7 linked regions of the Homo sapiens genome follow. The protein of the gene in region 1 interacts with the protein of each later gene in a pairwise test. Each region holds a gene or a part of one and is shown in the gene's direction. Other genes may lie near its edges.

The links.
Region 2: the proteins of POMP (region 1) and PYGM interact in a two-hybrid assay, tested with the Homo sapiens proteins (one large-scale study listed by BioGRID and IntAct).
Region 3: the proteins of POMP (region 1) and DCPH1 interact in a two-hybrid assay, tested with the Homo sapiens proteins (one large-scale study listed by BioGRID and IntAct).
Region 4: the proteins of POMP (region 1) and PSMB7 interact in binary tests that used the Homo sapiens proteins (3 or more experiments, as listed by UniProt).
Region 5: the proteins of POMP (region 1) and CAPN3 interact in a two-hybrid assay, tested with the Homo sapiens proteins (one large-scale study listed by BioGRID and IntAct).
Region 6: the proteins of POMP (region 1) and RBM5 interact in a two-hybrid assay, tested with the Homo sapiens proteins (one large-scale study listed by BioGRID and IntAct).
Region 7: the proteins of POMP (region 1) and KLHL41 interact in a two-hybrid assay, tested with the Homo sapiens proteins (one large-scale study listed by BioGRID and IntAct).

Annotation. Positions count from the first base shown.
Region 1 is NC_000013.11:28,665,630-28,669,129, forward strand, and holds part of POMP (proteasome maturation protein), read left to right. Parts: intron 1-2,843; coding exon 2,844-2,945; intron 2,946-3,500. UniProt on the Homo sapiens protein: Molecular chaperone essential for the assembly of standard proteasomes and immunoproteasomes. Degraded after completion of proteasome maturation. Mediates the association of 20S preproteasome with the endoplasmic reticulum.
Region 2 is NC_000011.10:64,757,175-64,761,457, reverse strand, and holds the start of PYGM (glycogen phosphorylase, muscle form), read left to right. Parts: upstream 1-1,483; 5' UTR 1,484-1,559; coding exon 1,560-1,802; intron 1,803-2,753; coding exon 2,754-2,855; intron 2,856-2,942; coding exon 2,943-3,021; intron 3,022-3,108; coding exon 3,109-3,212; intron 3,213-3,547; coding exon 3,548-3,679; intron 3,680-4,283. UniProt on the Homo sapiens protein: Allosteric enzyme that catalyzes the rate-limiting step in glycogen catabolism, the phosphorolytic cleavage of glycogen to produce glucose-1-phosphate, and plays a central role in maintaining cellular and organismal glucose homeostasis.
Region 3 is NC_000006.12:151,458,966-151,462,465, forward strand, and holds part of DCPH1 (damage-control phosphatase ARMT1), read left to right. Parts: intron 1-3,500. UniProt on the Homo sapiens protein: Metal-dependent phosphatase that shows phosphatase activity against several substrates, including fructose-1-phosphate and fructose-6-phosphate.
Region 4 is NC_000009.12:124,398,443-124,401,942, reverse strand, and holds part of PSMB7 (proteasome subunit beta type-7 precursor), read left to right. Parts: intron 1-3,500. UniProt on the Homo sapiens protein: Component of the 20S core proteasome complex involved in the proteolytic degradation of most intracellular proteins. This complex plays numerous essential roles within the cell by associating with different regulatory particles.
Region 5 is NC_000015.10:42,366,001-42,369,500, forward strand, and holds part of CAPN3 (calpain-3), read left to right. Parts: intron 1-3,500. UniProt on the Homo sapiens protein: Calcium-regulated non-lysosomal thiol-protease. Proteolytically cleaves CTBP1 at 'His-409'. Mediates, with UTP25, the proteasome-independent degradation of p53/TP53.
Region 6 is NC_000003.12:50,087,450-50,091,718, forward strand, and holds the start of RBM5 (RNA-binding protein 5), read left to right. Parts: upstream 1-1,469; 5' UTR 1,470-1,580; intron 1,581-2,932; 5' UTR 2,933-2,985; coding exon 2,986-3,002; intron 3,003-4,269. UniProt on the Homo sapiens protein: Component of the spliceosome A complex. Binds to ssRNA containing the consensus sequence 5'-AGGUAA-3'. Regulates alternative splicing of a number of mRNAs.
Region 7 is NC_000002.12:169,512,702-169,516,201, forward strand, and holds part of KLHL41 (kelch-like protein 41), read left to right. Parts: intron 1-1,872; coding exon 1,873-2,030; intron 2,031-2,152; coding exon 2,153-2,260; intron 2,261-3,500. UniProt on the Homo sapiens protein: Involved in skeletal muscle development and differentiation. Regulates proliferation and differentiation of myoblasts and plays a role in myofibril assembly by promoting lateral fusion of adjacent thin fibrils into mature, wide myofibrils.

The DNA of each region.
Region 1 (3,500 bases):
GTAACATTGATCCCTGAAACTGTTTCTTAAGTGGACTATTGAGTGAGCTGTGAGCATTTAATAGGGTAAGCAGTGATCATCAGCATCTGAATGAACTCAGCAAATTAATTTTAGTTCACTCTTTTACTCAGTTGCCAAATGGGTCAGTCAAGGGATCAAATTATCTGACAAGGGATAAGATTGAGGATTACATGGTGGATTATTAACCGAGTGAAAGTAGTGTAGGGTAAAGTATATGAGGTTGGTAACTGTACCCAGAGAACGGTGATTAGGGAATAGTCAATTTGGAGGGAATATTTTGATAGGGCTTTTTGGCCTCTGTCTACATCTTAGGTAGTCAGGTGGACACATAGGAAGGATAAGTATTTTTCAAGGACTTGTGGGCAACCAAAGAAAGAATGTATATTAGGTTTTTGGAAAAAAGGTTGAGAAGGATAGTTCATTCTGTTGAATAATTGAACTATATCATGGTGATAAAATAGACCAAAGTCTAGACCAAAATTTAAGGAAAACATTTATAGAGGTGAGTGTGAAGTTCTGCGTTTGGATTCAAAAAATGAATTCTACACCTTTGGGCAGGGTAAAGTGACTTGCTCTGTAAAACTTGACTATTTTAATTGACTGTATACTCACTATAAGCCAGCAGATTACGTTAGTTACTAAAAAGAAAGGTTAATGCAGTCTTGGGCTTTGTTAATAAGATGGGGCTCAAATCAAGGGAGATTATATTATTTTCCTGTGTATTAGTCTGGCTATTAGATTTGGAATATTGGTTTAGTTCTAAGCAATACATATTAAGAGAAACTGACAAATCTGAGTGAGACTAGGTGGAACTGTGAAGAATCTAAAAACTTCAGAGATCTTTTTGAGACTTACATACATCTACTGCATCTCTTCTTCTTTAATCATTTAGCCAGCTAATGGCAGTCTCACTCTTTATGTGACTCTTACTGTCTATTATAAATCCTTCAGCATGGATTGTGTAGTTGAACTATGTGGGCACCCCACTTTGCTAAGTAAACTTGGGGCATATTGCTTAATTTTCTTTAAGCCTTAGTCTTCTCATCTGGAGTTAGTAATAGCCCATCCTTGGCATATTGCTGGCCTCTAGTAGCTCTGCATGATTGGGAGCTTCAGTGGTGATAGTGATGGAAGATGGCCATCATCATTTGTACCAGTGGTTCTCAACTAGGGGAGGATCATCCTCCTGCCCCCTACAAGGGAACAGTTGGCAAAGTCTGAGGACATTTTAGGTTGTCACAAGTGGTGCGGTGGGGGATGGGGGGATGTAATATTGGCATCTATGGGGTAGAGGCCAGGGATGCTGCCAAACATCCTACAGTACACAGGACAGCCTGCCACAGTGAAGAATTATCTGGCCCAAGAAATCAGTAGTGCGGAGGGTTGAGATACATACATAATGTCTTCCAAACTGGATTATAATCTCCAAGGTAGGCTGTTCAGTTTTGTTGTGTGTTGCCACAGAGCCTAATTTTGCACACGGTTGCTAACTTACATGTTGATTGATAATTACAGTATTAATATCACATTACAAGATGGCTGTATTCATCAAAATTTACATAAATTGAGTTATTATACATAAAATTACATTTACTGCTGGGTGTGGTGGGGTGTGCCTGTAGTCCCAGCGGCGTGGGAGGCTGAGGCGGGGGATTGCTTGAGCCTGGTAATTCGAGGCTGTAGTGCTCTATAATCGTGCCTGTGAATAGCCACTGCACTCCAGCCACATAGCAAGACCCGTCTCTTAGAATAAAATTGTATTATCATGAGGATAAGCCAATATTTAAAGCAAACCCTTCACTTAGAACTTCAGATCATATACCCATAATAAAATACTGCAGGTTTTCCCTAAGGACCATCTGTCAAAATTTGCTGTGTAAAGCTAAAGTAATTAAAAAGCATTTGGTTAGTCACCTTACTTTCAAACTTCATAGTCATATCCCAAGTAGGTGCTAATCTCTCAATAGATTTTTGTTCAAAATGACCTTTTTGATTACTATTAGAAGACAATGTTATCAAGAGAGTAGCGTGTAATAAAAAATGACAAGAAATGACTTTACCTCATTATAATCACCTTAGCTCAGACAAATCTTTGTAACAGTCTGTTTGCATATTACATTCACTATCCTTAGGAGCCATTTTTGGAAACTGTTTTAGAATCCATGAGTCAAGTCGATTCATTTTGCCTGAAATACATTAAGTTATGGCCAAAGTTCCCTAAATGTAATATCAGTACTTAGTGAAAGTATGATCCAGGAAAAATTGCTGATTAGTACCCAATACAAATTGAATAAACTTTTGAGAGATGTTTGTTTTTCCCCTGAGGCAAGTACCAAAAATAAGTGGAGTTTAAACATAGTTTAATTAACAGGATGATTTAGTGGTCAGATTATTTCTTTTGCTGAATCCTTTTAAATATATGCCTTCATACTTAGAAATTAACTATTTTTGTCAGTGGATGTGACATTTTCTGGATCTCAAATTACACCTTTGCTAGTTTTGCAGTACTTTTAATCAAAAGCGCTAAAATATGATTGTCTTGTAAATCTACTTTTGAATAGGAGACACATTCCTTTACTTTTATAAATTTGGAATTTTGGTAGTAATTTTACTCTGGTAAAAGTACACCTGCATGCTAAATGAAATATAGACATATGTGGTCTAAAATTTGTCAGAAAAAATTAGTAAAAATACTTAGTTTTTATTACAGGTATGGATATTAAAATTCTTCATCTAACTATTGTGTTATATATATGCCACTGCTAACTGTTTTGAAAGCAGAGTATTGAGTGTAATGTTTAAAATTACATTGTCTTTTGTAGTTCCAGCTCAACCAAGATAAAATGAATTTTTCCACACTGAGAAACATTCAGGGTCTATTTGCTCCGCTAAAATTACAGATGGAATTCAAGGCAGTGCAGCAGGTGAGTTGATGGATCTCTGTTGCATATGTGTCGATATCATTCATGAGGAATCTTCTGTTTTCATAACAGCTATTTATACCTTATCTACCTTACAACCTATTCTACTTCCCTCCCCCTTTTTAGGGTATGACCTTGATTTCTACTTCATAGAGGGAAAAAAGAAGTCATTAAATGGAAAACTTCAAATTACAGGCTCAGTGTCTGAAAACTTACCTGCATCTGCTTTCATGTTTTTCTGGGTTTTTTTTTTATGTATTACATTGAATTTGAGATCCCTCTAAGAATATCCAAGTGGAGGTGTCAAGTATACAATTTGTATATAGTTGAATATACCTGTTTCTAAGGAATAAGTACTTGGAAAATGTCCTTCCAATTATGTAAGAACCACCCTCCTACCTGTGCTTTGGATTCTATCCTGTTACATTACTTCAGGAAAATCCCTTTATCAATGATGCCTTCTCAAGCTGATATCTTTAACCCCTCTCTGCTTGCTCTGTCTCAGCAGTAGCATTTGAACCGCTGTTGTCTTTTAAAACAAAAAAAAATTGTATCAAT
Region 2 (4,283 bases), on another chromosome or scaffold:
GGGCATGGTGGTGGGTGCCTGTAATCCCAGCTACTCAGGAGGCTGAGGCAGAATTGCTTGAGCCCAGGAGGCGGAGGTTGCAGTGAGCTGAGATCATGCCATTGCACTCTAGCCTGGGCGACAAGAATGAAACTCTACCTCAAAAAAAAAAAAAAAAAAGTTCTCAGAAACAGCTTGGCTTTCTCCGAACCAGGCTCTCAATAGTATCCTGCAGCTGTCCAGGCTTTTGACCTGCTTCCTTGGCCTTCAGAACAGAACACCCAGCTCTTCCCCTCCACCGGCCCACCACCCGGGAGGCCCAAACAGCCTTTGAACTAGCACAAGGTCCTGGTTCCTTTCTCTTAAAGAACAGCAGGATCCGAAGCCTGCCCTCACAAGATGAGGAGGCAGCAGCTGAGAGGCAGGGATTTTTTTTTTTCTCATTGGAGAGTCTAAATTTGGTGAAGGAATCCAAAGCTCAGAAAGGTAAAGCAACCAGCTTGAGGTCACACAGCAAGTCAGTGCTGGGGCCAGAACACAGCAGTGAATGGGAGGATAGCCAAAGCCTCCAGGGAAGGGCTCAAAGCTGTGGGGCTATGCACACAAATGGGGTGAGGTCCTCGAGGTACAGATTAGGCACCCATTTTATAGGCCAGGTCACAGAGCTGGTTTACAAAATCCTGCTCAGAGTGTGGCCCCAGGTGGCAGGAAGAAGTGAAAGAAGGCCTCTAATCACTTCCTAAGCAGTGGAATCACAGGGAGAACTTACTGTCATTAAACCAGTATGATGATGGAGTGGGGAATGCCTCAGTTTCTCCCACCGCCGAGGGCCTATAGGACTACAGTTCCCAGGGCCCCGTGCTGCAGGCTAGCGGCCTCCCGCCAATGCTGGCCAGTAACCTGAGCATCCCTCTCCAAAAGGTCACTTCAGGGCTCCTTGAGGGACAGCAACAGGGGGAGCCTAGAGCTGCTCAGCTTCGGTGGGGGTGGAGTGAGGGCTGTGGCCCTGCCTCACACAACCTCCCTCACACCACCCCTGCAATGCAGGGTCGTGGGCCCCTTTCTCAAAGACATCCAGTGGCCTCTGCTAGTTGCACCTCTTCCGTCAGGGGACACTGACTTGGCTCCTGCACCACAGCCTGCAGGGGGTCCTGGTTCCTTTTGCCACAACACATGGCCTCCCATCCTGGTTCAGCCACTGACAGACAGCTCCCCAATCCAGCACTCTGCCTGCTCCTTCTTGTATCCAACCCTCCAAAAGGCAGGGACAAGGGACAGAAGACCATGTGCAAGGCCTGGAGGAAGTGGGTCAGCACAGGCCTGTGAACAAGCCAGGCCAGTCTTGGCGGCCCAAGTGGAGCTCACCTCTCCCTCCCCTCTCCTCTCCTCCCCTTGCCCTCAAAATAGCTCCCTGAGCTGCCAGGCCAAGACCCTCCCATTGCAGGGGAGGCGGGGCGTGCTGCCCAGAGCCAGGCTTTAAATCCCCTTGAGGCTGGGGAGCTCCACTCCTTGGCTGGAGGCAGTGCTGAGGCCGCCGTCCCCTCTACCATCAGTCCAGTCCGGCCCGCCCTCCTGCAGCCATGTCCCGGCCCCTGTCAGACCAAGAGAAAAGAAAGCAAATCAGTGTGCGTGGCCTGGCCGGCGTGGAGAACGTGACTGAGCTGAAAAAGAACTTCAACCGGCACCTGCATTTCACACTCGTAAAGGACCGCAATGTGGCCACCCCACGAGACTACTACTTTGCTCTGGCCCATACCGTGCGCGACCACCTCGTGGGGCGCTGGATCCGCACGCAGCAGCACTACTATGAGAAGGACCCCAAGGTGCTGCTGGGGAGCCTGGGGTGGGGGTATGGGCTGAAGGCGCTGCCAGGGAGCTGGCGATCTTGACTTAAGTGGCTGCCCCTCGTCACTCTAGGTTCTTGGGGGTGGAGAATCCAGGGGTGCCAGGCACAAGGGGTGCTGGGACAATCTGAGGGAGAAACCTGGGGCAGGAGTGGGGGTCAGGGAGCTCAGAGCAGGTGGGCTGGCTGCAAAGGGTCAGTGCCCACTCGGAGAAGGTTGGAGTGGGTGCTGGTGGGCAGGACGGCGCCTGTGGCCTGGCTGGGCCCAGGTGGAAGGACACATCAGTTGCTGCATGTATGCGCGGTGTGCCTGTGCAGCAGGCGGGGCTGGGGCAGCTGGGGCGGCAGAGATCAAGTGTCCGGTGGGGTCACTGGTAAATGTCAGCAACCTGACACGCCTCGGTGGGGAGTGGGGGAGGGGCGGGCAGACGGCCCAGGAGGGGACCCAGGAAACTGGGAGACCAGGCACTGGCAGCATCCTAGTTTCTGGTGCCTCTGGGTCTCCTTGGGATTGAGGCTTGAGGGCCAAGGGGAACTGGACAGTGCAAGGATGGGAGGTGACAGTCTCTAGCCCAGTCTCTAGCCACTGTGTGACCTTGAGCAAATGACTTTTTTCTCTGGGGGTGTGTGCAGGGGGAAGGGGTGCCCATTCTCCCGAGTACCTCAGTCCCTGAAGTGGGTATGGCCAGCGCTATTTCCCAGATGAGGAGACTGAGGCCAAAGAGAGTGATTTGTCCAAAGTCAGAGGAATGCTGGGACCAGAACCTTAACCGCTGGGCCCCAAAGCCTGAGACAGGGAGAAACAAATTGGGGACAGGGATGGGACTGCTGAGCAGGGCAGGCGGGCCAGAGGTCCAGGCGTGGCTGGGCCTGGCTGAGTGTTGGTGTGTGGCCCTGACCCCATTCCCTGCCCATCCGTCTCTCTGGGCAGAGGATCTACTACCTGTCTTTAGAGTTCTATATGGGACGGACGCTACAGAACACCATGGTGAACCTGGCCTTAGAGAATGCCTGTGACGAGGCCACCTACCAGGTGTGTGTGGGGTGGGGCAAGCCGTGGGGACTGGGGGATTCCACTGCTGACACTTGACCCTGACCACTGTCACCCTCACTCCTCCAGCTGGGCCTGGACATGGAGGAGCTGGAGGAAATTGAGGAGGATGCGGGGCTGGGCAACGGGGGCCTGGGCCGGCTGGCAGGTAAGAAGACAGGGCCGTGAGGGTGGAGTGGGCCGATGGGGTCCTCCTTGCTGGGTCCCTGACAGCCACCTCCCTGCACACCCCCAGCCTGCTTTCTTGACTCCATGGCAACACTGGGCCTGGCCGCCTATGGCTACGGGATTCGCTATGAGTTTGGGATTTTTAACCAGAAGATCTCCGGGGGCTGGCAGGTGAGCAGCCTTGGCTCTAACTTGTGGGGTCTAGTCAGGATGGGGAAGACCCCCACTTGTTTATCATCTCTGGCAAGGTCCGAAACAGCCCCGCAAGCTCTGTGGAAAGCATCCTTGCTGCTCCCCACCCCCCGACCCAAAGCCAGCTGGTGCCCCTGAAACAGGTGGTCCGTGTCCCACTCGATAGCCCAGCAGACCAGGGGCCCACCTCAGAGCTCCTGACTTATACTTGGTGTAGGGTACACCGGCCCACGGCCCCCACCCTGCCCCACCGTGCACTGTGAGTGCCTGTACTGATACTGCTGGCCTTTCTCCCTGACCTGCCTTGGGTGCAGATGGAGGAGGCCGATGACTGGCTTCGCTACGGCAACCCCTGGGAGAAGGCCCGGCCCGAGTTCACGCTACCTGTGCACTTCTACGGCCATGTGGAGCACACCAGCCAGGGTGCCAAGTGGGTGGACACACAGGTGAGGATGAAGCTGGGGGTCAGGGGAGCCCAGAGAAGGGGAGGGAAGAGAAGGAAGCCCAGAGAGGAAGCAGGACCCAGTGTATTTTACACCTGAGGATGCTGAGGCTCAGAGAGGTTAAGTGACTTACTCAAAGTCACACAGCTGAAGCCAGGAGAGACTGGAGACAGGGACACAGGGGAGCCAGCCTAAGTGCAGAGTCTGGAAGGGGAGAGAGGCTGCCCTGCTCCCCCAGTGTCTCCCCATGACCTGGCTCCACTCCACACCATGAGATTTATCAAAGGACCATCTTGGCGACTTGAGTCTGCCCTGAACATCTCGACAGCAGCAGCCCAGAAAGGGGGACAGGAGAAAACTGGAGCCTTCCGAAAGGAATTCACTCATCACACAGCAAGTTAGAGGGATCCTAAAACCAAACCAAATCTAGACACAGTGGCTCATGCCCGTAATCCCAGCACTTTAGAAGGCCGAGGTGACAGTATGGCTTGAGTTCAGGATTTCAAGACCAGCCTGGGCAACATAGAGAGACCCTGTCTCTACAAAAAATAAAAAAAATAGACTGGGGCAGTGGGTCATACCTGTAATCCCAGCACTTTGGGAGGCC
Region 3 (3,500 bases), on another chromosome or scaffold:
GTCTCTACTAAAAATAAAAAAATTAGCGAGGCATGGTGGCACGGGCCTGTAATCCCAGGTACCTGGGAGGCTGAGGAATGGGAATTGCTTGAACCTGGGAGGCAGAGGTTGCAGTGTGCCAAAATTGCACCACTGCACTGCAGCCTGAGCACCGGAGTGAAACTCTGTCTCAATAAAATAGATAAATAAAGCGTGAATTAATTAAAGATTCCAACAAAGACTTCTAGAATAAAAGAAGTTTTGCTTATTGAGTAAAAAATGTAAATTTGAAATAGTTACATTTATATAAATAAGGATGGGACAAAGTAAGCATATGTTTTGTTTATTGAAATAGATAATAAACGTTACAACTTACTTGGTTTAAGGAGTCATGAGAACAGTGAATCATACTATTGTATTATAGTCTTAATCTTTCATCTTTTTTTAAAAAGGCTAGTTTAGAAAAAGATTTTAAAAGTACACATGTTTCAAAGTAACTTTTTCTAGGCTTGTTTATATTATTTAATTTTTCCTAGGAAAACATCTGATAGAGAACTAGTTTTTAGACCAGGCGTGGTGGCTCATGCCTGGAATCCCAACACTTTGGGAGGCTAAGGCAGGTGGATCACTCGAGGTCAGGAATTTGAGACCAGCCTGGTGAGCGTGGCGAAACCCCGTCTCTACAAAAAATATATAATTACCCAGGTGTGGTGGCACATGCCTGTTGTCCCAGCTACCCCGGAGGCTGAGGCATGAGAATCACTTGAACCTGGGAGGCGGAGGTTCCAGTAGCCAAGATTACACCACCGCACTCCAGCCTGGGCGACAGAGCGAGACTGTTTAAAAAAACCAAAAAACAAAAAACTGTTATTTATAGTGCCAAAGAAAAGTTAATGGGGATGATTGGATTATCCTTAATAAGCACAGGTTCCAAAAATACAGGTTTGTTAAGAGGAATCCTTTGGTATCTGTTCCTAAACATAGCATAGGACAATTTAAAGTGACCTATCAAGTCAGCACTAATTGTAAAATAAAATTATTTTGGGAAACATATGGAACTTTAAAATCTGTTCATTAGCTTTTTTGTCTTAATCTTACACACACACGTATATATTTTGTTGTTGTTGTTGTTCTTGTTGTTGTTTGTTTGTTTAAGATGGAGTCTCGCTCTGTCGCCCAGGCTGGAGTACAGTGGCGCGATCTTGGCTTACTACAACCTCTGCCTTCCGGGTTCAAGCAGTTCTCTTGCCTCAGCCTCCCGAGTAGCTGGGATTACAGGCACCTCCCACCATGCCTGGCTAACTTTTTTTGTTTTTGTATTTTTTGTAGAGATGGGGTTTCGTTATGTTGGCCAGGCTGGCCTTGAACTCCTGACCTCGAACTCCTGACCTCAGGTGATCTGCCCTCCTCGTCCTCCCAAAGTGCTGGGATTACAGGCATGAGCCACCACGCCCAGCCTATATATTTTTTTTTCATATCACAATTTGTTGTTTTTTCTGATAGGTAGGTTTTAGAACTTCTGATCTAAAAGCAAAATACACTATTAAAACTCTGGTGCAGGCCGGGTGCGGTGGCTCACACCTGTAATCCCAGCACTTTGGGAGGCCGAGGCAGGCAGATCAAAAGGTCAAGAGGTCGAGACCATCCTGGCCAACATGCTGAAACCCCGTCTCTACTAAAAATACAAAAATTAGCTGGGCGCGGTGGTGCGCACCTGTAGTCCCAGCTACTCAGGAGGCTGAGGCAGGAGAATCACTTGAACCCAGGAGGCGGAGGTTGCAGTGAGCCGAAATCACACCACTGCACTCCAGCCTGGGTGAAAGAGCAAGACTCTGTCTCAAAAAAAAAACAAAAAAACAACAAAAAAAACTCCGGTGCACTGCTTGGCATGGAGAAGGCACCCCAGCAGAACAGCAGAAGATGTAAGGAGCTGTCAGTAACTAGCAATGTTCTAGTGACTGTGCAACCCAGTGAAATGTAGGCGTTGTTATGGTTTCCATTTTAACAGTTTAGGTGATTGGGCTCAGAGAGATTTCTAACATGCCCAAGGTGACATGGCTAGTAGGTGGTGGAACCAGGATTTGAGCCTGGTCTGTGTGAATCAGATTAGTGTCCTTATTCAGCCATTCTTCCCAAATAGTAGATTTAGATGCCTGTCAAGGACTGAGAGTAGTCTGAAATTCGGGGTGATGGTTTCCTAATTTTGGAAAATATCTGTGGTAGGAGCCAAAGCTGCCAAAGTGTTGAAAGACTGGGTGGCATCTTGAGTGGGGTTGGTGGAGTTTGTGTGTTTAAGGCAAGAGGAATGCTGTTTCTGAGTTTGATTTTAGAGGTTGATCAGGTTCAGAGACTAAAAATACCTAGAGCAGATTTTCACAAACCTGGCTGCACATTTATGACCCAGTTGGGGAAAAGGAAGGTGGCTTCAAAAATGCGTATTTTTAGGCCAGGCACAGTGGCTTACGCCTGTGATCTCAGCACTTTGGGAGCCTGAGGCAGGTGGATCTCCCGAGGTCAGGAGTGTGAGATCAGCCTGGCCAACATGGTGAAACCCTGTCTCTACTAAAAATACAAAAATTAGTCAGGCATGGTAATGGGCACCTGTAATCCCAGCTACTCAGGAGGCTGAGGCAGGAGAATCACTTGAACCCAGGAGGTGGAGGTTGCAGTGAGCCGAGATTGTGCCGTTGTACTCCAGCCTGGGCGACAAGAGCGAAACTCCGTCTCAAAAAAAACACCACATAGTTTTAGATTATTGTGTTGGAATAAATACAAATTGCTTAATTTATCTGGGGTGGGGCCTGGGTATCAGTTTTTCTTTCGGAAGCTCAGGGAGTGATGATATCCACTGGTTCAGCGAACAGATTGTTAAATGGGATAGAGGGAACATGCATCTTTAAGTTCAAGAAACTAGAATGTTGCACAATCACGGATGTAGAACTCTTCCCAAAGCGGTTTCTGTGGCAGATAAAGAGCCATCTTACAATGGAGCCAGCACTGAAGTAATTCTTAAATGTCTAATTTTTAGGTTCTTCTATGGGGGATCCCTATCCTAGGTCAATGGCAACTCCAGACTGACCAGCTTTTATAAAAGACATGTTTATATTGATTTACCATTTTACACTGAAACATGCAATAGTCTGCCAGTCTAAATTAAGATTCAAAGTTTTAGCCATATGTGAAATTTAAACATATTAGGTAAATACACTTCAGATATTGAAAGATGAAAGTACAGAGAAAATATTAGATTTTTAGAAAAACTTTTTAATAAAGTGTAATATACATATAGAAAAATGTGCATGTCTTATGTGTTCAAGAACATACTTGTGTACCCAGTGCCCAGATCAAGAGACGGAACCTTACAGACCCCAAAAGTCCACTTTGAGTCCCTTTCCAGTCACTGCCTTCATTACTCCTCAAGGATAACCATTGTTCTGACCTGTGTTAGTTTTGCCTGTTTTTTAACTTTACTGAAATGAAATGATACAGTGTATAGTTTTGTGTCTGGCTTCTTTCACTCA
Region 4 (3,500 bases), on another chromosome or scaffold:
GGTTCAAGTGATTCTCCTGCCTCAGCCTCCCGAGTAGCTGGGACTATAGGCATGCACCACCATGCTCAGCTAATTTTTGTATTTTTAGTAGAGAGGGGATTTCACTGTGTTGGCCAGGCTGATACGGAACTCCTGACCTCGTGATCTGCCGGCCTCTGCCTCCCAAAGTGCTAGGATTACAGGTGTGAGCCACTGCACCCGGCCTCATCAGCTCTTTAGTGAGTGCCTTCTGTGTAAAGGCACTATAGCAGGCAGCACAGATAGAAGTGAATATCAGGGTCTTTGTCCTCAGATACTCAGTCTAATGGGGGAGACAGATGTACCTACTGACGAGGGCAGGAGGGGACCCAAGGGAGAAAAGGTCACTTCCAAGCTGGGATAATTCAGGAAGAACTTCACTTGAGCCGAGTCTTAGAAGGAGGATTGGATCTCTTCATTCATTTGTCTGATGTGTATTAAGCATCACTAGTGCGGAGCACTTTGCTAGGAGCTGGGAAGATTAGTGGTTAACACAGCGTCTGCCTCAGAGCCTATAGTCTTGTGAGGGAGACAGGTATTAGACAGGTAAATTCACATGAACCTAGAAGAATGCATTGTGATAAGTGCCCCAGAGGAAAAGAACAGTCATTAGAGAGGATAATAGGAAGGAGTGTGTGGCTGGTGGGTGTTTGTGTAGTCCTTTCTGAGCAAGTGACATTCAAGCATTTTCTACTGAACATAATTTATGAACATGACAGAACATTCAAGTGGGACAAAGAACTATAAGAAAAGTCTCCTTCACATCCCTCCAGAGTAACCACTGTTAAGAATTGTTTGTATTTTTTTCCAGAAAATGTGTTATGATAAACTTTCACGTATCTCCTTCTCTGTCATCTAGTTACCCCTTTAAAAAAAACACACAAATGAGCTCATGCTATACATAATATTCTTCCCTTACTATTAACTCGTTTTGAAGAAGTGTTTATATCAGCTTACGTGGGCCTATAGAATTTCTGTAATAATAGCAAGCTGTACAGAATTGTATTATGTGGCTACACCATGCTTGCTGACCCATTCTTCTTCTGATGAACATCTTGTTTTTCATATTTTGGTAACAAATGTGTCTTGGTCTACTTGTATAAATACGTACTTCATTTAGATAAATTCTTAGCAGTGGAATTTCTGGATTAAGGTGTACACGTTTCGGCCAGAATTCTCTGTTGCAAGCAGTTGAGTCACTGGATGATTTAAGGAAGAGAGGGATTTTTGAGAAAAGTATAGCAGGTGGCTCACAATGTAGTTGGGAGGGCAAGAACTGGGTTTGGGGCCAAGAACAGTGTCTCAGTCTATGCTGCGGGCACAGCTGGTGCCGGACCCTGGCTGCCACAGAACTGAGCCTTCCTGCCATCCCTTCCACCACCAGAGAGTTCCTCATGGGGAAGGTGGGTGCTTCTGATTGGTGAAGCTCAGCCTCAGCTCAGATGGCAGTGGAATTCTCCGGACAGAGGCAGGAAATACAGCTGCTGGGCAGCCCAGAAAAGGGACAGTGCATTTTACCTTTTGAGAGCTATTGCCAAATTGCTGTCCAAAAAGCTGGCACGAGTTTATACTCCCACTAGAGAATACAAGGACGCTTGTCTCCCACCACCTCACGGATGCTGAGTATTTTTGCCAGTCTGATGGGTGAAAGTGGGAAGAAAGAACACTTAAACGCCTGAGGGATGAGTAGGAATTTGCAATGCACCCCTTACCCCCGAGGGATAGACCTCAGGCCTGTGGTGCACAAGGGCTCCGTGTGGTTAAGCACTGAAAGGCCAGAGTTTGCTGCATGGGTGCGGCAGGAGCAGTGAGTGGGGGTGGGGCAAGGGACCCATGCAGGGGGTGCAGCAGAAGCAAAGATGGGGAGGGTGGAAGAGGGATGGATGTTGGGAGTTTGGAGCAGAGGCAAGGCTGGAAAGCAGGCCTCGGGGGTCCAGACGCTGCAGGCAGAGCTGTTTTGATTTTGTCCTGGAGGTCTCCTGCTCTTTCAAGCCAGGGAATGAGAGGATTAGGTTCGCTTGTTAGAAGGAGCAGCTGACAGCTGTGGGGAGCAGTGGCGTGAGAGGCCTGGGGCAGGGAGGGAGCTTGCATCCTGGCCAGAAATGTTGAGGGTGAGGACGAATCCAGTGGTGGTGGCGGTAGGGATGGCCACTGTCATTACAGAGACCTCTCAGACAGCAGCTAACCCCTGGGCCACATCCTGGGTTTCTGTCGTCATTCTCTCCTGGCGTTCCTCAGCGCCAGCTCCTTGCGGCTCTTGGCTGCAGTGTTGCAGTCACGCCTTCATTTGGGGCCATCTCCCTTTTCAGTTGGGCTCTAGGCCCTTTTTCTCATCTCATTTCCTGTTCTTCCTTCCCTTGTGCCCTGGGCTTCAGTGGCAGCAGCCCCCTCGCCCTCCTCTGAAGAGAGCCTAACAGCTGTTGCTGCCTCCTTTCAGAAACACATTTTCTGCCTGGAGTGTTCCTCCTCCTCATCCTGAGTGTGGCCCAGAAGCCATTCCCTCCTGGCTGCCCCTGGCGGAGTTAGCAAGTCCCTGCCAGGAGTGAAGCAGGATCCCAGGACTCCCGCCTTGGCCCCACTTTGCTTCCCCTAGGCATTGTCCCTCCTGCCCCTGCACAATTCTAGACCTCTGAGAGCAGCTTCTGTGCCTCACTCTCAGGGTCTCACGGAGCCCTGTGCAACTCAGTGAATATTTGATGGTGAATTAATTTTCTGATTCTCCAACTTGTTTGTGCTAAAGAATGTCTGAAACTTAGTGTTAGAAACCTTAGCCGCTGTTCATTGTTTGTGAACTAGCAGTTTGCAGCACCCCTGGAATGCAGTTGGTTTAGATTGTGTTCCATTTGTGTGGTCCCAGTTTAGCTGTAAAGTGTTGTAAATGTGACAGGTCCTTTTACTTTTTTTTTTTTTTTTTTGGTTAAAGCTTAGTATTATTTTGAATTTAAAGCATATTTATGGGAATGTCTCTGTGCCAGAGTCTGCTGGGTGCTGGCACATTATTTTCAGTTAAAATTCAGTGTAAGGGATGCTATTATTGCTATTTTACTGACGAGAAACCTGAAAGTTAGAGAGATTTAGCAACTTACCTAGTGTCACTCAGCCCCATAAGTGACAAAGCTGGGATTTGAACCCTTGTCTTCCATCTCTGGCAAGCCCCAGTACAACACAGCTGCTGTGATTTTATCATCCTACAGATGTGATTTCACTTAGCTATTAAGCCTTGCTTCTGAATACTAAAAATATTTATACAGATTCCCGAAGGGCACTTACTGGATTTTGTATTTTTGACTGTTCTCTGCATAGGTTCTCTGTCCTGCATGTTGAAAACAGTATTTACTGAAACAGCCTTATTGCAGCAAAGGAAATTAAACTATATATATGCATATATATCTCCACAATTTTACTACCCAAAAACAACGTGATTTTTACTTTTTGTTTCTTTCCAATCCAAGTCCATTGTGAAGAGGAGCTCTTTACAGAGA
Region 5 (3,500 bases), on another chromosome or scaffold:
CAAGTCTAGAAGATTCTCAATACTAGTACTTTCTTGATCTTATCAGAGGGTGTCCATGGAAGGTCATGACCATCACCCAGCTGAGTGCAGTAGAAGGAAGCTTTCTAATGTAAGTTGCATCACAGTTTCAGAGATGTGAGAGAAATTCAGAAATGTGAGGGAAATTGTGAAATGTAAAACGTGAGGGAGAAAAGCATTCAGAATGGAAAAATAAGACAAAGAGTCCCTTCCCATCTAACTCACAACCCTGCCATCCCCAACCTATTCCTTTTCCCAGGCTCTTTCTTTCTTCCGTGCTGTCTATCGACATGGACCCAGCCACACCGGCTGGTTTTTGCTGCTTTCTGTATGACCTGGTCTCTTGCCCCTTCCCAAGGTCCTCATCATCCAGGCAGAACCAACTTCTTCCTTGTGCCAGGGCTGTTACACCAGGAGAAAAAAAAGTATGACATTCTTCAGGGTAGATCTTCTTACTACTGTGGAATTATTGTCAAGTCTTTAAATTTATTTCGCCAAATGTGCTCACTTTCTGAACCCTTAACATGGCAGAAACATCTTCTCTCTTCTCGAGGAAAACCTGTAAGAAAAAATCAGAAAGATTATTATAATTACAGAATTACAATAATCTCTGGGGTGGGGGAAGGAGAATTAAGTATGATTGTTTTCGAGGAAGAAAAGAAAGAAAAACACCTGCCCGTTTACTTACAAGAGGGAGGAGAGCTAGAACTGAAAGGAAAATGGAGTGGAGGAAGCAACAGGGCTTGTGACGACCCCTAACCTGGTGTTCTTCCTCTCCACGACCCGACCCTCACAGAATTCTTTTTTTTCTTTTTTTTTTTCTTTTTTTTTTTGAGACAGGGTCTCGCTCTGTTGCCCAGGCTGGAGTGCAGTGTCTCCAGCTCAGCTCACTGCAACCTCCACCTCCCAGGTTCAACCAATCCTCCCACCTTGGCCTCTCTAGTTGCTGGGACTACAGGCATGCGCCACCATGCCTGGCTAATTTTTGTATTTTTAGTAGAGATGGGGTTTCACCATATTGACTAGGCTGGTCTCAAACTCCTGACCCCAGTGATCCACCGCCTCAGCCTCCCAAAGTGCTGGGATTATAGGCATGAGGCTCTGCACCCGGCCTCCCTCACAGAATTCTTTCCGAGTGCTTGTGAAACTTCTGAGGCAAGTGACTTGGTAGAGGGTGGAGGTTCCTATTTTGGTTTACACAAGCAGGGGTGAGCCAACACTCAGAGTGTGGAAAGCACAGGAGTGTGGGGAGAGAGAAGCACACAGAAAGGAGCTGCTAGGAACCGGCTGAACTGTGGTGGGAGTGAGGAGGCTCTGCCCTCTCAGAGGCTATGGAGTGGTGTTCAAGACAATTCACAAGGAAGCCTGGTGCCTCAGCTAACACTGGGTGGCATTCTGCTGAAGAGGAGCTGACACGTACTTTTCCATTTTCATTCAATCTTCAAGTTTAAACAATCACCATCAGAACTTTCAGAAGTGTATTATATACTCCAGAACACCAGAAATATAGTATAAAAGCTGCTATTTTTAAAATACCCCAGAGATATAGGACCAAAAATGGGAACTACTTTCAGCCTTTCCAGATGGATGGCTTTCTTTCCTGATATAAAGGTTTTAAAGAGAAAAGGATGGCTCCATCTCCTTGAGTAACCTACAGCTTGTAACTTTCACAGTCTGAACACTCATCCTTATTTCTAACTAGAATGTTTCCAGGTGCAAATGTAATATATTTTCTCTGGCTGTGACCCAAAAGACAGTGAAATAGAGTCAGCTGATTTTCCCTGTATGGTAACCCTCCCTATTTTTTTCTCTCTTTTTTTTAAACAGAGATAGGAGTCTCACTATGTTGTCCACACTGGACTTGAACTCCTGGGTTTAAGTGATCCTCCTGCCTCAGACTCTGAGTAGCTGGGACTACAGGCATATCCTGTTTTTGAATCATGTCATCCCTCTTTTAGTTAATTCAGATCAGTCACAAAAGTGTTCCAACTTTATGCCATAGGCATGGCTTTTCCAACATGGAGGACGTCAGTGCTATAAACCTTACACAGCCAATCCTTGTTATTTGCAGATGCCATATTTGCAAATTCACCTACTCGCTAAGGTTTGTCTCCTCAAAATTAGTACTTGAGGTGTTTTTGCAGTCATTTGTGGGCATACACAGAGCTGTGAAAAATCTGAGTCACCCCACATGCCTGTTCCCAGCTCAGGTCAAACAAGGCAACACTCAGCCTTCTTGTTTCAGCTTTGATACTGTAAAGAATGTCCTTTTCATGACGTCTTTAGTGCCATGTTTTTCTCATTTCTGTGCTTTTTATTGGTGACCTCCAAGCATAGTGCTGAAATGCTGTCTAGCATTCTAGGAGGCTGTGGTGTGCCTCATGGAGGAAATACGTGTGTCAGATAAGCTTTGTTCACACACAAGTTATAGTCAGTTGGCTGTGAGTTCAATGTTATTGAATCATCAATCAATAAACAATAATTTAATGAATCAATATTAAATAAGGTGTCTTTAAGCAGAAACATCATAAAATAAGGCTCTGTATTGATTGGTTGATGAAAATGTGACCAGAGACTCATAGGACTCTAACTCTGTAGTTCCCCTAGGAGCAATGGTTCAGTATTTACTAATACAGTGTTCTCAGCGTTATTATAAAACATAACTACCAAGAATAATGAGTATTGACTATACTTCATTTTCTCTGTATTCTTAAATATTACAGCTTGAAACAATGCTCTATTAAGAATGTGGGCTGGGCGTGGTGGCTCACACCTGCAGTCCCAGCATTTTGGGAGGCCAAGGCGGGTGGATCACTTGAGCCCAGGAGTTCAAGACCAGCTTGGGCACCATGGTGAAACCCTATCTCTACCAAAAATACAAAGATTAGCCAGGTATGGTGGTTTGTGCCTATAGTCCTAGCTGTAAGAGTTAAAAAGAAAGAGGAAAGAAACATGAAAAATGGCTCAATAAAGACAGGTTTATTTTGGAGAATAAACCTGAGAGGGGCTTCTGGCTGATTTCTGTCAGGAGTACTCTCTCTTACAGACTAAGTGTATTTAAGGGTTCAGGGTGAGAGAGCCTATCACAGGCTTGGAATGTTTCTGTGTGGAGGAGAAGTTCATTGTGGGTTTGGAATGTCTCTGGTTGGAGGGGAGGTTATCTTGGGGCTGGCTTGTCTCTGGTCAGGGAGAGAGTTTATCTTACGGTTGGAATGTTTCTGGTTGGAGATGTCATTTGTGGTTTATGGTCATACTGACATTAGCCATTAGGCTGATGCCCTTTGGGTTGGATTTAGGCAGTTTTTGATCAAGGGGCACTTTAAAATGGTGGTGCTTGTCCAAGATGGTGATGCTCCTGCTCTGTCACTAGCTACTTGGGAGGCTGAGGTGGGAGGATCACTTGAGCTACGGAGGTTGGGGCTGCAGTGAGCCAAAATTGCGCCACTGCATTCCAGCCTGAGTGACACAGTAAGACCATCTCA
Region 6 (4,269 bases), on another chromosome or scaffold:
AGCGATTCTCCTACCTCAGCCTCCCAAGTAGCTGGGATTATAGGTGTGCGCCACCACACCCAGCTAATTTTTGTATTTTTAGTAGAGACGGGGTTTAGCCATGTTGGCCAGGCTGGTCTCGAACTCCTGAGCTCAGCTGATCCACCTGCCTCGGCCTCCCACAGTGCTTGGATTACAGGCATGAGCCATCATGCCTGGCCCCTCCTTTTTATTTATTTATTTATTATTATTATTATTATTATTATTATTATTATTATTATTATTATTTTGAGACTGAGTCTTGCTCTGTCACCCAGGCTGGAGTGCAGTGGCACGATCTCAGCTCACTGCAACCTCTGCCTCCCTGGTTCAAGTGATTCTCCTGCCTCAGCCTCCCTAGTAGCTGGAACTACAGGTGCATGCCACCATGCCCGGCTAATTTTTGTATTTTTAGTAGAGACGCGGTTTCACCATATTGGTCAGGCTGGTCTTGAGCTCCTGACCTCGTGATCCACTTGCCTCGGCCTCCCAAAGTGCTGGGATTACAGGCGTGAGCCACTGCGTCCAGCCTTTTTTTTTTTTTTTTTTGAAACAGAGTCTCACTCTGTTGCCCAGGCTGGAGTGCAGTGGCGCAATCTCGGCTCACTGCAAGCTCCGCCTCCCGGGTTCACACCATTCTCCTGCCTCAGCCGCCCAAGTAGCTGGGACTACAGGCGCCCGCCACCATGCCCAGCTAATTTTTTTGTATTTTTAGTAGAGACGGGATTTCACCGTGTTAGCCAGGATGGTCTCGATCTCCTGACCTTGTGATCCGCCCGCCTTGGCCTCCCAAAGTGCTGGGATTACAGGAGTGAGCCACCGCGCCCAGCACCGGCCTCCTTTTTATTTTTTAGCGACAGTTTCTCGCATTGTCCCCAGGCTGGAGTGCTGTGACGAGATCACAGCTCACTGCAGCCTCGACCTCTTGGGCCCAAGCGAACCTCTCACCTCAGCTCCTGAGTAGCTGGGACAAGAGGTGCACGCCACCATGCTCAGTTAATTTTATTTTTTGTAGAGATAGGATCTCACTGTGTTTCCCAGGCTGGTCTCGAACTCCTGGCCTCAAGCGATCCTCCTGCCTCGGCCTCCCAAAATGCTGGCTTGTGAGTGAGCCACCACTTCACGCACGGTCTCCTTTTGAAGTAGAATTAGACAATGTTTTACACCGTGCCAGTGAAAGCAAACTGTACTCTCTACGGCGCTAGTAGCAAAAGCAAAGAATTATTAACATGCCTAATAGGAGCCCTAAAAACTAATCCAGGTCTGCAAAAGCCGATCGACAACTCTGTAGTGATTTAGAAGAGAATTGCAAGACATTAACACAGAGCGTCCTAAGTGACAGGATGGTCTGGCGACCACATTTCCCGGCAGCCCTCGCACAGCCAGGCCGCTTCGAGGATTGGACTTCTCCGCAGGAGGCGGGTGACAGGGGGAGGGGATAAGCGTGAGGTACTGTGGGTAGGAGACGGCCGTCGGCGGAGGCGCCATTTTGTGTAGCCGCCGAACCTTGTTGGAGGTTCTGGGGCGCAGAACCGCTACTGCTGCTTCGGTCTCTCCTTGGGGTAAGTGCGGCGGCTGTCTGTAACGACGGTAGGTTCTTGCCATTTGGGCTGGCCCCCAAGCCTCCCTTGTCAGCTGCCGGAGGCGACTGATCAGCTCCAGCCGGTTCTGTAGAGGGGCTAAATTACCCCAGGCGTTGGAGGGCCGCGCCCTTCCTTGTTGCCAGCTCTGTCAGTTTCCAGAGGGTGTCCAGCCAGCTCAGCCTTGGGCCTGCTTCTTTCTGGCTGTGACTTTGCCCCTTGTGGATACACGTCCCCTAATCTTCAGCCCAACGGAGCAGTGGAGCCGTCGCCTGTCCCTCGGGCACTCCTTGGGAGCTCCCTGGCAGTCTCTGGCCGCCATCCCCCGCTCAACTGCAACTGAATCGCCCTCTCCGAAAAGCTGTTCGGTGATCGCCCATCTGCGGGTTTGGAACCTCTTGGGAGGCGGGAGGGGCATGTGCGGGGAGGGCAGGCCGGACGCTGGAGTCGGTCGAGCAGGCCGTGACGCCGCCATCTCGGCCGCGAGACCCCACGGAGGTGGGTGCCGGCACCGCCCGGGAGACAAGGGGCGGCACCAGTGAATATGCCCCGGGACTTGTTTCCCCCCAGTGGTTCTTTTTCATTTATTAATTTCAACAAATCGTTGAGCATTCGCTCTAGACTAGGCTTCCAGAGACTACTGGAACTGATTTTTCGGACCTCGCGCTCATCGAACGCGGTCCAGCAGTGTGATGTCTTATTACCAACGGGGGGCGGGGGGCCGGGCTGTTCACTACTCAGTGGTTTGTAGTCATAAGAACTGGCTCAAGACGTGGTGGTTATTGTTACCTAGGAATTAGGTCGTTTCTAGCTTTGCTCTTGTCTTATGCGATACGTTATTAATGTAGTAGATTTCAGTCAGCTCAGTATCCCAGCTTCTACGAGGTTTTACATTTTTCATCAGAAGTGTTTGAATTTCATGTTGCTCCTTGTATTAATGAAGACACTTGGATTAATGTTTTAACGGTCAACTATCCCACGGAGTTGCTTTGATACAAAACCAAGGAGCTGATTGTAGCTCTGCCCTTTTTGCTTTGTAATTCTAAGGTAGGAGCAGGGAAGGAGTCTTCTGCTTGCTCCGTATTATGATTCTGTTAAATCTGGAATCTAATATTTTAAAATATGCTTAATCTTCCGGTTTTGCTCATTGTTAACAAAATGTTAGCACGATTTTAACGTTGACAGTTTGTCCCCACCACTTCCCCACCTTAGATAATCACTGTCAATGATTTGAAGGTTTGATGAAATCCCAGCCTCAGTAGTATCCAAGCTATGGAGCTGCTGACTTAAGTGATCTCTGAGATTTATAGCAATTAATCTCTCTTGTCTCCTAGAAAAAATAAAATTTGAACCTTTTGGAGCTGTGTGCTAAATCTTCAGTGGGACAATGGGTTCAGACAAAAGGTAAGTTACTACAGTACGTGGCTTTGATCTCAACATTTCAGTGGGGACTGAACTCCTTGTTTAAAATAGTTTATCAAACTAATATATGAGTGTTTTGCGCCAGGCATTGCTAACGAACACCTTTATGATCCTGTTGTCACAAACTACAGTCTAGTGAGAGAATTAAAGTACTGTGTGAACATGCTGTGATAAAGTGTAGGGTGCTCTTAGAACACATAGGAAGTATGTCTTTTTCTTGTTCACAGCCAGGAAAGCTTCCTGGAGAAAATATTCTCTGGAAGGAAGCTGAAGGATAAGAAAGAATTTTAGGCAAAGAAGGGCAGGGTAGAGTGGGTCACTGAAGGTTCCCTGTGTGGACAGCAACCTTTGCAGAATCCAGGAGATCATACAGTCTGGCACTTAGCACAGTTCCTGGCTGTGGTAAGCAATCAATGAATGCCATTTCTTGTTATTGTTCCCTGAATAGCAAGATGATCCAGACTTAGAGAGCTGAGAAGCTTGGGACTGTGTGTTACATGAAGAAAGAAAGAGCCAAAGAATTAGTGGAAAATTAAGATGAGAGCATTTGGCTATTGTGTCACCTATGGGTACATGCTCTCAGACCATTTGATTTAAACACACACCCTTATTCAGCCATCTGCCTTTTTAGTATTGAGGTCAGTCCCTGTGGTAGATCACATTGACAGGCTGAGGGACCTTAGGAGATGTTCATGTCACATGGTATTTTAATGCTGTGTCAGCAGTCTGTGGTTCTAAATAGCTTACTAAATTAACATTTACCCCTTTGGGGTGTCTCAGTCCCATATTTCCTTTGATTCTTTTTATTAAATTTGTATATTCTAAATGAAGCCCTTATAAACCTTTCCTTTGCCTTATGATTGCACAGCAGTTTTATGAATCTGGTAAACAGTTTACAAAAGGTGTATTTTATCTGTGGTCAAATAGGTTTAAGCCTCTTGTTATTAGGTTTTCCCATGAAGCCCAGTGCTGCCCTTTAGCCAAAAATAAACCAGATGTTATAAGAAGAGTGTTCTCTTAAGGGGTGCTAGTTTTGGGTAACTATCCAGTTGTATCTGACAGACAACTAAGTTGCCTGATGGGGAAAAAAAAGACTAACTTAGTTCATCCAGGTTTTTGGTCCATTTTCCAGTAGGCATGATACCCTTGAGAGTAGATGAGCCAGGGATGTACTTAATTTCACCCTTTAAAATTGGGTGAAATTCGAGTAACTGCTTTCTTCCTGTTTTTGGTCACTAAGATCTGAATC
Region 7 (3,500 bases), on another chromosome or scaffold:
GAACGGTATGCCAGGATAAAAACACTTCACCATAAAAGAGGGTTGTGACTCATCAGACAATATTTACATGAGAATTTCAGGTTTTATATTTTTCTGCTTGGTCACATCTATTTAAAATGCATTAATTTAGGAGTAATTTGACCTTTGATTGTATGCTGTAAATAGATTATGAGAATTTTTTACCTTGGTAAGGGAGGATTTTTTCCCCCACTCATTAATTTGAATTAATAGATTCATCAAATCTTTGAACAGGTCTTAAAGTAATCTAGGTCCAAACCCTAATTTTAACAATGAGGAAAGTTGAACTCAGAGAAGTTAAATAGCTTGATAGTTCCTCTATAAAAGAGACTGGTAGGTAGTCTACTGTTCCATCTGCTAGAGAAAGTGCCCTCTAACAGGTAATATGGGAAGGTAGGCAGTACTGTACAGTATGAGAGTTAAGCCCACAGGTATGGGATTATGATGGCTGCTGTTTCCATTTTTTAAAACCAACTGTGAATGTACATGGCTTGGATTTGAATATCACCTAAAAGTTCTGTGTATTTGGGAAAATTATTTAATCTTCCTGTGCCTCGGTTTCCTCATCTGTAAAATGGGGATGATAGAAATGCCTATCCTGGAGAACTAAATGAGGTTACCTGTGTAAAGCATTTAGTTCAAAGACTATGACAACAGTCAAAACCCCATAAATGTTCATTATTATTTCTACTATATTACATACCACCTTCATGATCAAAGAATTTCTTTCAAAAGTGAAAACATAAGGGATCAAAATCTAGCTGTTGAAATTAGTGAATGCAAAGCTAAGAATGCACATGTGGAGATTAAACTTCTCATGTCATCTAGTCTTAATTAGCGCTTTGTTTAACTGAGGTTACTAGACCACATATAGATAGGCTTCCACAGACACCCCTGTCTATACCACAGCCATTTGTATGCACATCTATTCTTAGTATCCAGTGAAACTGGGTTTTATTCATTTTATTTTTGCAATCTAGAAGTGGTACCAGAGAGAACAACAAATCTGCAACTGTACTCTTGCAGAAAACAGTTTTCTTGTGCCTTAGTGTGCTAAAATGAAAAGTGTAAAATATTTAAATTACCAAAAGTAAGTGATGAAACAGATGCCACCATCATCTACCCCAGGGCATGGGCACAAGGAGATTTTCCTCCTTGGGAAAATCTTAAGCTTGCAGAAGTGGTGGTGACCAAAAATGAGCAGTTACTTATTAATATAAATTTTTTAAAAAAGAGAAGAGTATTTCAAGGGACTCCCAACAACACACTAGGAAATTCACTTTAACGCCTGCCTGTATCAGGAATAATAAAGCAAAACACAGAGAACCTAAAATGTTTTTAAAGAAAGAAAAAAAGATATTGCCCAACATCCCAGTTGTTTGTGGACTGAGTGACAGGTCCAGCTGTCCCAGCTGCCGGCATGGGGAGCATGTTAAATATAGCACGCAGGGGTCATTCACATTCTGTGACCCTCCTTGTTATGACAACCTTTCTTTCCCCAGTGTCCTAAAAGTATGAGGATCTCCTGTTTCAAAGCTGAACAAGGCAATATGGGAGAAAATTTGACAAGAAACCTCACAGTTGTAATTAACCTCTGGTGATTCTATTTTATTTTTTCTTTTCTTGAAGCCTTGAAGATTTTGATATCTTTATCTGGTAGGCCAAGTAGATTTACTCATTCTTCTTGGTAATTATGAGCTACAATGTGATACTTTGGGGTTGTAGTTTTATTTACTTGTGAGATATTTGACTATCTCGATGACTTCTAAACAACATATAAAGTATAACTTTTTTTGGTGTACTTCTAATTTTTTTCTAACAGGCTCCACAATCTCTCATATATGTTTTTTTCAGCTCGATAGCATAGCATCTGAATGGGTTGGACTTCCACCTCTGCCTTCAGCCAGGTGTCTCTTCGGTCTGGGAGAGGTGGATGATAAAATCTATGTAGTTGCAGGCAAAGACCTTCAAACAGAGGCTTCGCTGGATTCAGTATTATGCTATGATCCTGTGTAAGTTGGCATGATATTCCTGTTCCCTAAGCATTCAAGTATATGCGTGCCTACAACATATTCATATTTTCAGAACCTGGAATTTACTGAAGGTATATAAATTCTGTCTCGTTTAATTTTAGGGCTGCAAAATGGAACGAAGTAAAAAAACTCCCTATCAAAGTCTATGGCCATAATGTGATTTCACATAAAGGGATGATATATTGTCTAGGAGGAAAGACAGATGACAAGTAAGTACCCTGAACTCTCATGATTTATGTCTAAATGACTTTTTATTAGAAGGGTTTCTTCCTCTTTTCTTTTCTTTTTTTTTTTTTTTGAGATGGAGCTTCACTCTTGTTGCCCAGGCTGGAGTGCAGTGGTGTGATCTCGGCTCACTGCAACCGCCGCCTCCTGGGTTCAAGCGATTCTCCTGTCTCAGCCTCCTGAGTAGCTGGGATTACAGGCATGCTCCACCACGCCTGGCTAATTTTGTATTTTTAGTAGAGACAGGGTTTCTCCATGTTGGTCAGGCTGGTCTTGAACTCCCGACCTCAGGTGATCTGCCCGCTTCAGCCTCCCAAAGTGCTAGGATTATAGGTGTGAGCCACCACGCCCGGTCTCTTCCTCTTTTCCTTTGGATCTGCACACTAAAATGGGACATGGTTCTCACCTATCATATTGTGGAGGGAAAATCTTAAAATTTCAAGTCGCTGAAGTAAACATGTAGATACTCAGCATACTGCTAGGAATGAGCCTAATACCCCAATCATAAGCATCCTTACAGTCCAGGCAGTATCTAGGAGCATAATCAAGTCCTGTATTTCACTGATTTATAATTGTATTTTACTACATTAAAACCAATGGGTTTTCTTATTCATTTAGCCATAAGTAGATAAAAATTGAAAGGTATCTTTAATGTAGTATTTAAAATATATCTTCTAAGACAACTGTGCATAAAAAATATCATGGATTTGTACTTTACATTCATAAGAGGGACTTTAGATAGGTCAGTTTGAAAGAAAAGCGTGGTGATTGAAAAGAGGGAAGTAAAAAAGACAAAATAAAAACAAAAAATTAAGGCAATTATTTCCTCAGCAGTGTTCTTCCACATATTTACTCCCTGACAGAGGTAATATTCAAAATGGCTTCCAACTGTTCAAAACTGAGCTCCCAGTAGCACCCAGTATCTTGTGAGAAAACCAGGATGAGGTTTCATATATAAACCTAACTTGATTTCCAGTCAATTCTTAAGGAACCTGTAATCAGGAAAGAGATGTTATAACCCAGAGAGAGGAGAAGTGAGCTCCGAATGCTTCAGAGACAGTCAAACCAGTATAACCTGTCTAGTAAAATAAGCATTTTCAGTTTAGATGGTGAGAACTAATATTCTGCCCCTGAAAAATCTGCCTGATTTGGCTTGTCATCATTTGCCCAGGCCATTGAATTAATAGTGATGTCCAACCCTGAAAAGGGAGCCAAAATTTAGAA